Homo sapiens: one gene and its partners. The protein of the gene in region 3 purifies or fractionates together with the protein of the main gene of each other region. This does not show direct contact. Each region holds a gene or a part of one and is shown on either strand. Other genes may lie near its edges. The genes, in order: ZDHHC9, TMEM248 and TMEM184C.

The links.
Region 1: the proteins of TMEM184C (region 3) and ZDHHC9 fractionate together in Homo sapiens (co-fractionation; one large-scale study listed by BioGRID). This does not show direct contact.
Region 2: the proteins of TMEM184C (region 3) and TMEM248 fractionate together in Homo sapiens (co-fractionation; one large-scale study listed by BioGRID). This does not show direct contact.

What each region holds. Positions count from the first base shown.
Region 1 is NC_000023.11:129,812,887-129,816,540, forward strand, and holds part of ZDHHC9 (palmitoyltransferase ZDHHC9), read right to left. Parts: intron 1,910-3,654; coding exon 1,772-1,909; intron 840-1,771; coding exon 791-839; coding exon of another isoform or gene 775-790; intron 29-774; coding exon of another isoform or gene 11-28; exon of another isoform or gene 1-10. UniProt on the Homo sapiens protein: Palmitoyltransferase that catalyzes the addition of palmitate onto various protein substrates, such as ADRB2, GSDMD, HRAS, NRAS and CGAS. The ZDHHC9-GOLGA7 complex is a palmitoyltransferase specific for HRAS and NRAS.
Region 2 is NC_000007.14:66,941,645-66,945,298, reverse strand, and holds part of TMEM248 (transmembrane protein 248), read right to left. Parts: intron 3,452-3,654; coding exon of another isoform or gene 3,434-3,451; coding exon 3,275-3,433; intron 324-3,274; coding exon 38-323; intron 1-37.
Region 3 is NC_000004.12:147,627,304-147,630,957, reverse strand, and holds part of TMEM184C (transmembrane protein 184C), read right to left. Parts: intron 2,598-3,654; coding exon 2,523-2,597; intron 1,360-2,522; coding exon 1,266-1,359; intron 1-1,265. UniProt on the Homo sapiens protein: Possible tumor suppressor which may play a role in cell growth.

The DNA of each region.
Region 1 (3,654 bases), on a different chromosome or scaffold from region 3:
AGAGCACCAGTCAGACCATCTTTACCTCCTGGAACGTATATCACAAAAAGCCATGTTTCCATATATAACAATAGATGAATTCTGAACTTACTGGATAGATCCCTTATGAAAGAATTTCTAGCGTATCTAGGGTATTTAAGGGTGTGCCTATTTACCCATCATTGGCTCTTGGAAGGGGATGCATGGGAGGGGCCAAAGCTAAACAATGTTGGCCATCACTGCCAATGGAAATTCTGTCAAAAAACAAAATTCATGTAATCCCGGCACTTTGGGAGGCCAAGGTGGGCGGATCACAAGGTCAGGAGTTCGAGAACAGCCTGGCCAACATGGTGAAACCCCCGTCTCTATTAAAAATACAAAAAATTAGCTGGGCGTGGTGGCGGGCATCTGTAGTCCAAGCTACTCGGGAGGCTGAGGCAGGAGAATCATTTGAACCCAGGAGGCGAGCTGGGGCAACAGTACAAGACTCTGTCTCAAAAAAAGAAAATTCATAAATGAAGAACTGGTGGGGGAAAAAAAAGAGGATGTGATTTATAGAAATCTCATCTGAACCCCCTTTGCAGAAATGCAGCCACTGTCCTGAGCAGGGGGTGAAGGAAAGACCTCCCTTTTAGTCCCGGTCATCTTCCATTCTGGTTGCTACCACTAAGACTATATTTTTTTAAATTATTTTAGACCTTGGCACTCTCTGATATCTGAAAAACTAGATAGTGGGAGAACTGTGGGGAAAAAGCATGCTGGAAAGTAGCTTAAGAAGGCTTCACAGGGACATACTGCCAGCGGAGGATATGTTCCAGGAGTTTCTTTCAATGTCTCCAAGAAGCCAATTTTCAAAGATTCTGTGAAATTGGATGGAAGAGTAGAGAGAAAAATTAGTGACTTCAGTCAAAACTACACACTATCCTAGTGCCTACTCACTTCCTTCCCTCCCTCTCCCGTGTTACACACTGGCAAGAGCTAAGCTCTCACTCGGGCAAGGGTGAAGAGCCTCATCTCCTAGCTGGTAGTCTCATGACTAAAGAGTTCACATTTCCAGTGCAGGACCAGGCCCTGGACTAGACAGGCAGGCAGAAGAGCAGCAGGCTCCCTTCCCTTTTCCCTAGCCCCCAACTATGGACATGTTAGGGGGATATTAACAGATAAAAGAAATCAGAAATACCCAAGAAAAATCCTCTCTCCTTGCCAATACGTGTCCCTCCCTTGTTCAAAATCCAGCTCAGAACTCTTCTCTTTCCAGAAAGCTGTCTTAAGACCACTCCCTTAACTCCACATCACATCTGCTCTTAGATTGGCGTGTGTGTGGGTGTGTATGTTTGTGCACATGTACATATGTGGGTGTGCTTTCTATCTCCCAAACTAGACCATGAGCTACAAAAAGACATTTCTCAGGCAAAACCCTTACCCTTTTCTACCCCTTAGCACAAGGCAAGTTTTACAAGGCAGAAGAAGAGAGGATGCTCCGAGACAAAATACATCCCCAGCCTTTGGGATTACCTCAGAAATGCCCCAGTACTCTGGATACAGACCAGTAATTATGGCCCCAGTGCCCAGCAGTTGGCCAAAGAGAAGGCCAACACACTGATTAATACTCATTGATGTGCACTGAGGTTTGCAACCCTGCTCAAGAGCAGATAACTGTGCTCATTTCTAACCTGTCCTAAAGTACCTTTCACAATGGTACCACCAGGAAACCCAACAACCCTCTAAGCTGCCCTTAACTCTTCCCCCACCCAGCCCCACTCCAACAACGGACACTGCCCTGTATACTCACTGAGGGCCACATAGACGATGTTGAAGGCGAAGACATAGATTGTGAGGAGGGAGAGAGAAAGGATGAAGAGGTAGAAGTAGCGGTAGTTCCTCTTTCCAACACAATTCCCCACCCAGGGGCAGTGATGGTCGAAGCGCTCTGTGGGAGAAAGAGAGAGTCCAAAGCCAAAAGCCTCCAGAACAAAAATCAACCCCACCATCCCTATAATACCTAATTCAAAGACCTCCAGGATCATTGTCTATTTCAGTTGTAAAAAATATAGGGTTTTTTTTTTTTTTTACTTTTTCAAAATGTTTTCATAACCATCTCATTTGATCCTCACAATTTCCCTGGAACTTGGGCAAAAGGAGATACTCTTTTCCCCACTTTACAGATGAAGAAACAAAGGCATGGAGAGGTTAAGTGATTTGCCTCACTCAGCTCATTAAAAGCAGAGACACTGCTTTTCCAAATAAAATCTTAATCGGTGGGCCTACTAAGTTCAAGAAGAATAAACAGGTCAAAATAGCCAAGGAAAAATGTAAAACTACAATATTTAAAATGGTATGGCATAGTTCAATGGAATGGAAAGAGCCCAGAAACAGATCTTAGAATATATAAGATTTTGTTGTCTAATAAACTCAGCATTACAAAATCAGAGGTAAAAGGAAGTATTATTCCATAAACAATTACGTGACAATTGGCTATTTGGTGCAAAATAAGGATCGATTTTTTTGTCTTCATACTACTTGTCATAGTAAATTCCAGATGAATTAAAGAACTAAATGTAAAAACAAAGTGAATCCATAAAATAACTATAAAGAATAAATGTTTATTTGTCCTCTATATGCAGAAGGACTTTCTAAGCATAAAAGTACTGGAAGAAAACAGATGACAAGGAAAAATAGATTTGACTCCATAAACTTTAAAAAAGTACTTTGTGGTTTTGATTTGCATTTCCTTGGTGATCAATGATGTGATTATTACACATTGCATGCCTGTATCAAAACTTCTCATGTACACCATAAATATATATACCTACTATATACCAACAAAAAATTAAAAATTTAAAAAATATTTTGTGTATGTTAAAATTACCATAAAGAAGACTAAAGAAAAAAAAACAATGGCAATCTATGTAAAGTTGTACCTGACTATATGAAAAGTTCTTAGAAATCAATAGGAAAATACAAATACTTCGTCAAGAAAATAATAGTCAAAAGTTACTTGAAATTTGCTAAGAGAGTAATCTTAAGTGTCCTCACCACACACACACATGCACACACAATGGTAACTATGTGTGGTGATGAATATGTTCATTTGATTGTGGTAAGCATTACAGGCAGACACCAAAATCCACCCATACTCAAGTCATTCAGCAGCCCTGCAGAACCCACGGATAAGAAAAGTTGCCCCTCATGTACACAGGTTTTGCATCTTGTGAATACTGTACATTTGAACCTTGAACAACTCAGGTTAGAACTGCGTGCGTCCACTTGTACATGGATTTGTTTCAATAAATACAGTTGGCCCTCCGTATCAACAGGTTCTGCATCCACAACTAAACCTAGATCAAAAATACGGTATTCACAAAATATGAAACTCCTGGAGACGGATACAGAGGGCTGACTTCATATCCATGGGTTCCACAGGGCCACTGCAGGACTTGAGAATGCATGGGGTTTGGTATTCAAGGGCAATCCCTGAAACCAATCCCCCAAGGATACTTAGGGACGACTGTATTTTGGATCCGCATTTGGTTGCAGATGAGGAACACACTGATACTGTATTTATTGGAAAAAAAAAACCCTCATTATTAAGTGGGCCCATGCAGTACAAAACTGCATTGTTCAAGAGTCGACTGCACATAAAACAAAAACAAAAAACAAACAAAAAGGAAATAG
Region 2 (3,654 bases), on a different chromosome or scaffold from region 3:
GCCTAAGGAGCCTGAGTGGAGAGTGGCTACTGCATACCTGAAAGTCCAATCTGATGCCCTAAGATGGTTGAGTACAGATGGGTGACGTTGCGGGAATACCCTCCGAAGGGTTTCAGTGGGTCCAGGGTTAGGGTGATTGAGACTGAGATATTCACCGGGCCCGAGTCCTCCAGGGCCTGGGGGGACTGGGTGGAAGCTCGGGCCTGCCCGCTGGTCATTGTACTTTCCGGAGTTGTGGTGTCGTTTGTGAGATGCTTGAGGGTTTCATTCTCTGATACACACAAGTCCAAATCATTGAACCGTAGCAGAAAAGTATTCCAATCCTTTGGGAAAGTGAAAGAAAGAGAAATGGGTGTTAAGCAGCGCCTGTCTCCCACTGCGGGAATACAGGTAAGACCCCAGTGTGGCACCGCAGCACATCAGCAAACTACAATTCAGAGCTGATCATTTAAGATCATGACAACTCGGCCACCACCCTCTTCACAGGCAGCATGATGTGGCTTTCCTAATCACTTTTATATTCACAACCTAAAATATGAACTCTTCACTGGCACAAGATACTCAATAAACTGTGAAATCAAATCAATTTATTCAAGAAAATCTTTTTAAAAAATCCAGCATATTACACTTAGAGAAAATGATCTAGCCTCAGAACCAAACTTGAAAAGAACGCTTGAAGAAAAGCATTAATCCAAACTCATTTTGCAACTACAATTCTTTTCTTTAAATAAAGTCACCTTAAAATAATGTCCCAAAAGGTCAATTCCATACACCTTGCTCTCTTTCTCTAGAACACAAAACAGCAGTGAATACTAATACTCATTTGGGACACTGCCCCCCTTCTTATGGACTTTTGATGACACCTTAGAGCAGCAACGATTTCAAAAAGGAAGGGGCCAGGTACGGTGGCTCGCACCTGTAATCCCAGCACTTTGGGAGGCCAAGGTGGGTGGATCATTTGAGGTCAGGAGTTCGAGACCAGCCTGAGCAACATGGTGAAACCACGTCTCTACTAAAAATACAATAATTAGCCGGGTGTGGTGGTGTGTGCCTGTAATCCCACCTACTTGGGAGGCTGAGGCAGGAGAATCGCTTGAACCTGGGAGGTGGAGGTTGCAGTGAGAGGAGATCGTGCCACTGCACTCCACCCTGGGCGACACAGTGAGACTCTGTCTCAAAAAAAAAAAAAAAAAAAGCCATCTGAGGCCAGGTACGGTAGTTCACGCCTGTAATCCCAGCACTTTGGGAGGCCAAGCAGGGTGGATCACTTGAGGCCAGGAGTTCGAGACCAGCATGGATAACATGGTGAAACCTTGTCTCTACTAAAAATACAAAAATTAGCTGGACATGGTGGCGCATGCCTGTAATCCCAGCTACTTGGAAGGCTGAGGCACGAAAATCGTTTGAAGGGGGGCAGAGGCTGAAGTGAGCCAAGATCGCGCCACTGAAGTCCAGCCTCAGCCTGGGTGTCAGAGTGACACTCCACCTCAAAAAAAAAAAAAAGTCATCTGAGCAACCCCTACCCAGCCCAGTAAGTCTACCCTTACAGCATCAGTTTAACTGTATGTGACATTTAGTAAGACTGCAACTGGATCTATCAAATTACATTTTCCCTAACACCTACAAACTCAACTGACCATTCTAGTACATTAGGGTTGAAAATGAACATTCTAGTCTCAGTCCTTCATAATCCTAGACATGAAGAAACTGAGGCCCAGGGCAAATTAGGGACTCTCCAATTCTAGTTCAAGGTAAAATCAGCATTAAGTTCTGATTCACAGCCCCAAATGTTTCCCATACACCACTGCCTTTCCTACAACCTAGGATCCTCATTTGAAAACAAAAATCACGAAACTAATCATAACCAAAGTTCCGCAGCATCTCAACAATGCGTTCCTACAGAGCTGGAGTCCACGTTGAACAGCTGGCTAAAGCCAATGCCAGGCCTAATTTGGATTATTAAGGGCTAATTATCCAGGCTTCAGTGCAACCACTGGCCTTGGCCAAGTGCTCAACATGGACTCAAGCTCTGCGGGAAAGAAATGGCAGGAGGCTGTGCAGCTTTAGTTTTGAGTAGAATATTCATTTTCAGCCCTGATGTGGGGGCAGCCTGTTTTCACAACCTTTAAAGATTGAGGCAGGGTCAGAAAAGAGAGAGAATTAAGCCAGCCAGTATGTCTCTTAGTAATAAACTCTTTGAAAGGGTTACATGGTAGAAATAGCTAAAACTCGTTACTTGAACTGTGCTAGAAAGAGCTCACATGTGTAGGCGGTTCCTTTTGCCAAGATCACTTAAGATCTAGAATGCCCTAGAGCATGAGAGAAAGCTACGATCTCAATTACATGGAACACAACTCTCCTCTCCATTGCAAGGCACACTCAATGCGGCAACCACGCACTCCCAGCCCCACTCCCACCCCCACCTCCACCCACCAACAAACCCAAGAAGAAGGAAATAGAATAAGAGAAGGCACCCAAGGAATCTACTAAAAGACAGGAATTAGGCTGGATGCGGTGGCTCACACCGGTAATCCCAGCACTTGGGGAGGCCGAGATGGGTGGATCACCTGAGGTCAGGAGTTCGAGACCAGCCTGGCCAACGTGGCGAAACCCCGTCTCTACTAAAAAGACAAAAATTAGCCAGACGTGGTGGCAGGCACCTGTAATCCCAGCTACTCAGGAGGCTGAGGCAGGAGAATCGCTTGAGCCCGGGAGGTGGAAGTTGCAGTGAGCTGAGAGTACGCCACTGCACTCCAGACTAGGTGACGGAGCGAGACTCCGTCTCAAAAAACAAAAAACAAATATATTTGGAAATTAGGTCCTGTTTTTGAATTTCTTTAGGATTCCTTCTTATCTCATGAAAAAAACCATTAGTATAGCTGATAAAACTCCATGATGATATGTGGTTTTAAAATACCAAATGTTCAGTTTTCTAAAACAGCAATGAACCCATTTGAGATGGAATATTACAGAGGTGAGGTCTCCAGCTTTTTGACACAGATCATTTTACAAATGTACTCTCCAAAGTGCATGTTTCACTGCTAAAATAGTCTAACTGAAACTGGTAGCATATTTAAATCGAACAATACCCATCTAGGTATTTCCTAACAAAGTGAGTCCTGGGGAGATGGAAAACAGAAAATTCTGAATAAATACTGATTTTTCTCACTAGGAGAGAAAGGCCAAAACCCAAGAAAGCTATATGGCAAGCCACAGGGTGTTGCCCCACTGCACAAGGACCAGCCAGCCCGGGAGAAGTCAGAGCATACTATACCTCTGCCATTTCTGGGGATTTAATCTCCTTGATTTTGAAGAAGTAGCCCAGGGTCAGGAAAGCTATGGCCATGGCGCTTACGCTGATCATGAAGACCACCAGGGGAGGCCGACTGCTGATGTACACCTTCAGGTTCTCCAGGGGGTTGATGCTGAACATTATTCTGATCAGCTCCACCTGAAAGAAATGAATCAGAAGCTTCAAGGACTGACTTGCCAACAGGAAAGCTATGATTCTTTTGTTTCCTTTTGAGGTGTTGGGGGGTGAGCTGGGTGGGATGGGCACTCATTACTGAATTTGAGAAATGTCGGATCATAACTTCATTCAAAAGACTAGAAGGAAGAAACACTAAATGTTAACTGCCATTACCTCAAAGTGGC
Region 3 (3,654 bases):
CTGAATGTAAAGAATCAAACAATTTTTCCTGAGAGCGGTGTATTAGTTCAGCTAGATTTATTTTTTAAAATGAACAAGACTTACTAACTTTTTAGAAATCTGTAATAACCTAGTGTAGTGCTGAATAACAATAAACATTTTCCTGAAAGTTCACTATTCCCTATTAAAATCATATAAAATGCAAATTCAAAGTATTTTAGAATATGAAACCAGTAAAGAAAGAAAGAATAAAGTGATTCATGGTGTCCAATCATCCTTTTTACACATAAGCCAGTTTTTAAATAACTGTCATGAACTAATTATAAAATTTTATTGCCTAATGTTTTTTCCACTTAAAATACATAACTTCTATATGTTTCATCAGGCTTATTTTTAGTAACTGCCTAATATTTTGGCCAATGGAAAGACCACAGTGCATTCAACTAGTCCCTAACATTGGGTTTTGGATTGCTTTCAGCCTTTTGTTATTTACAAGTAATGGGCTTTATATACAAAGATACTTTAGGCAAACATACTTTTGAACACTTCTTTAGAATACATTCCCAGAAACAGAATTACTGGTTCCAAAGAGGATGAACATGTGGGAAAACTTTAGCTACATGGACATTTAATTTTTATTATAAAGCTCTAATACCAACCATGCATACCACTGCATCTAAATTATTTTGCTGACAGCATTAGTCAAAGAATTTAAATAAAATGCACATTTTTTTAAGCTTGTAAGATCAAATAGGACATTACATCATAGGTCTTTGGAACATACAGTTTCTAGAACATCATCCATTTTTTTAAACTTGGCATTCTCAATTTTCCTTTAACTTCAAATATATGATAACAGAGAATTTTATTCTCACATTTTTATTCAAACCCTGTACCATCAAATACCAATTTGATATTTTCTCTTCTGAATATGTTCAGTATATGTGGGCGTGTGTGTGTATTTTTTTTTTTATGTAGCACTGTGCTTTTATTTATGACATACTCATACAGCTATGCAATGAGCAACAGAAATAAATGAACAAACATGGTCAACATGTGAGGGTATAAGTTGCCAAATAATAAACAAAGATGTTATTATATCTTTATATATGTATTAAGATATATATTAAATTTTTTTCAAGTCTTTCTATAAATTAAATTTCAGATTTAATTTATAGGAAGATTAAAAAGAAGCAAGCCTTATCCTAAGAAGAAACTTTGTCTAAAGAAATTTAGTTATAGATACGAATTTAGTACAGTTTAAGAAAAGTGAACATTTTACTTACCAACTGTGACATGTTGTTTATTATAACCAAATAAGTCCAAGCATTTGAAAAGCTAAAGTTCCCTTCGTCATATATACCAAGCAGCTCACAGATTCTAAAAATAGTAAAAATGAGATATCTCTGATTAAATCAAAATCGTACTTCAAAATACAGCAATAGCAATACTTAAATTTAGAAGTCAGTTTATTTGAGATCTCACTGACAATCACTTGACTTTGGACACAGAGAATTTAGAAGTCAGTTTATTTGAGAGATCCATTGACAATCACTTGACTTTGGATCTAGAGGTGGTTCAAAAATGAAAAACCCATTTTTTTCTAGAAATATTACTATATTCCTTCAACTTGAAGGAAATCCCAAATAAGACACATAACACTTAACTAGAAAGAGTACTAAATTTAAAAAAAAACAACTATGCTGTCTAATTTTGGGAAAGCTTGATTGTTAAACATAATATAATGCAGGTGTATATAACTGTAGTTGTTAATTTTTTCCCCTCAATTGTCTTGGAGGTAAATTTTATGAAGACCCAGATCCCCTCAAGTAAGTATGACCATCAGTATTGTTATAATCTTACCCAATTTCTAAGCTGCAGGGAAATAAAGCATGCCTTCATAATTAAATGGCTAAATAATTGCTAGCTCAAAGGCAGAATAAAGAATTCTTTCACAAGTCTTTCTTTCCACTTTTCCTCTGTGAGCATGCAAAATGTTAGTAACAACTAGGAGATAAAACATGTAATCTATTGGCATTAAAGTATTTGATGTTCTTGAATTTTTAGGGAATAGTTTTGCCAGGTAGCTTAATGATACCCCATTTTACCTCAATTCTAAGCCTTGATAGAATATATTAAAAGAAAATATGACTTCTTTCTTAGAGTACTTCTAATATATTCTAAATTAACTATGTAGAAAATAGAACTGTAATTAACCTAAAGTAGCATACTTTAACTTCATGCAATAGGGTTTCTGTCAAGCTATGTATCTGAAAAAGAAGGTATTTTTTTTTCAAAGTGCTTTACGGCCAGCTAGCTCTGGAGAGGATGTGAATATTTAGGAGACCCCTGTGGTGACTCTTTGCCTATAAATGGTCATGTTATTTATTTTAATAGAGTGAGTTTCTATACAGTGTTTTTTTTTACAACAGACTAGACCTGCATTATAAATAAGCACATTAACACTATGTTTTCTACTTAGTTGTTCCCACATAAGATCACAAGGATGAAAAAAAAAGTTCATATAAAATCCGAGTACTTACAAAGCAACGATGGTGGTGAAAGGTCTGACAACTGTGTACTGTAATACACCTAGTTTGCACCTAAACAGCAATACTCTGCAAAAGAAAAAGAACTTAGAATTTCAACTACTCATTTAAATAGCATCAGATTTTCCCCAAAGCCTCCAAATTAAAATCACTTTGATGAATGATACCATATTTACAGTTAATTCTTTCAATGTAGTCATCCTTAATAGCAGTGGCAGAAGAATGTGGATGGCAGGAAACAAATTATCTAAATACCTTTTTTATTTTTTGAGATATAGGATCTTATTCTGTTGCCCAGGGTGGAGTGCAGTGGTGTGAACATGGCTTACTGCAGCCTTGACCTTCTGTGCTCAAGTGATCCTCCCACCTCAGCCTCCTGAGTAGCTGGAACTATATCTGCATACCACCACACCTGGCTAATTTATTTTCTGTAGACATGGGGTCTCACTATGTTGCCCAGGCTACTCTTGACCTCCTGGGCTCAAGTAATCCTCCCACCTCAGCCTCCTGAGTAGCTGGAACTGTATCTGCATACCACCACACCTGGCTAATTTATTTTCTGTAGACATGGGGTCTCACTATGTTGCCCAGGCTACTCTTGACCTCCTGGGCTCAAGTGATCCTCCCACCTCAGCCTCCTGAGTAGCTGGAACTATATCTGCATACCACCACACCTGGCTAATTTATTTTCTATAGACATGGGAGTCTCACTATGTTGCCCAGGCTACTCTTGACCTCCTGGGCTCAAGTGATCCTCCTGAGTAGCTGGGACTGTAGGTGTGTGCCCCCACACCCAGCTATTTTTAAATTTTCTGTAGAGATGTGGTTTCACTGTGTTGCCCAGGCTAGTCTCAAACTCCTGGGCTCAAGCCATCCTCACGCCTGTAATCCCAGCACTGTGGGAGGCCGAGGCAGGTGGATCACTTGAGAGCAGCCTGGCCAACATGGCAAAACTCTGTCTCTACAAAAAAAATAACAAAATTTAGCCGGGCACGCCTGTAATCCCAGCTACTTGGGAGGCTGAGGCATGAGAATTGCTTGAATATGGGAGGTGGAGGTTGCAATGAGCTGAGATCACGCCACTGTATTCTAGCCTGGGTGACAGAGCAAGACCATCTCAAAAAAA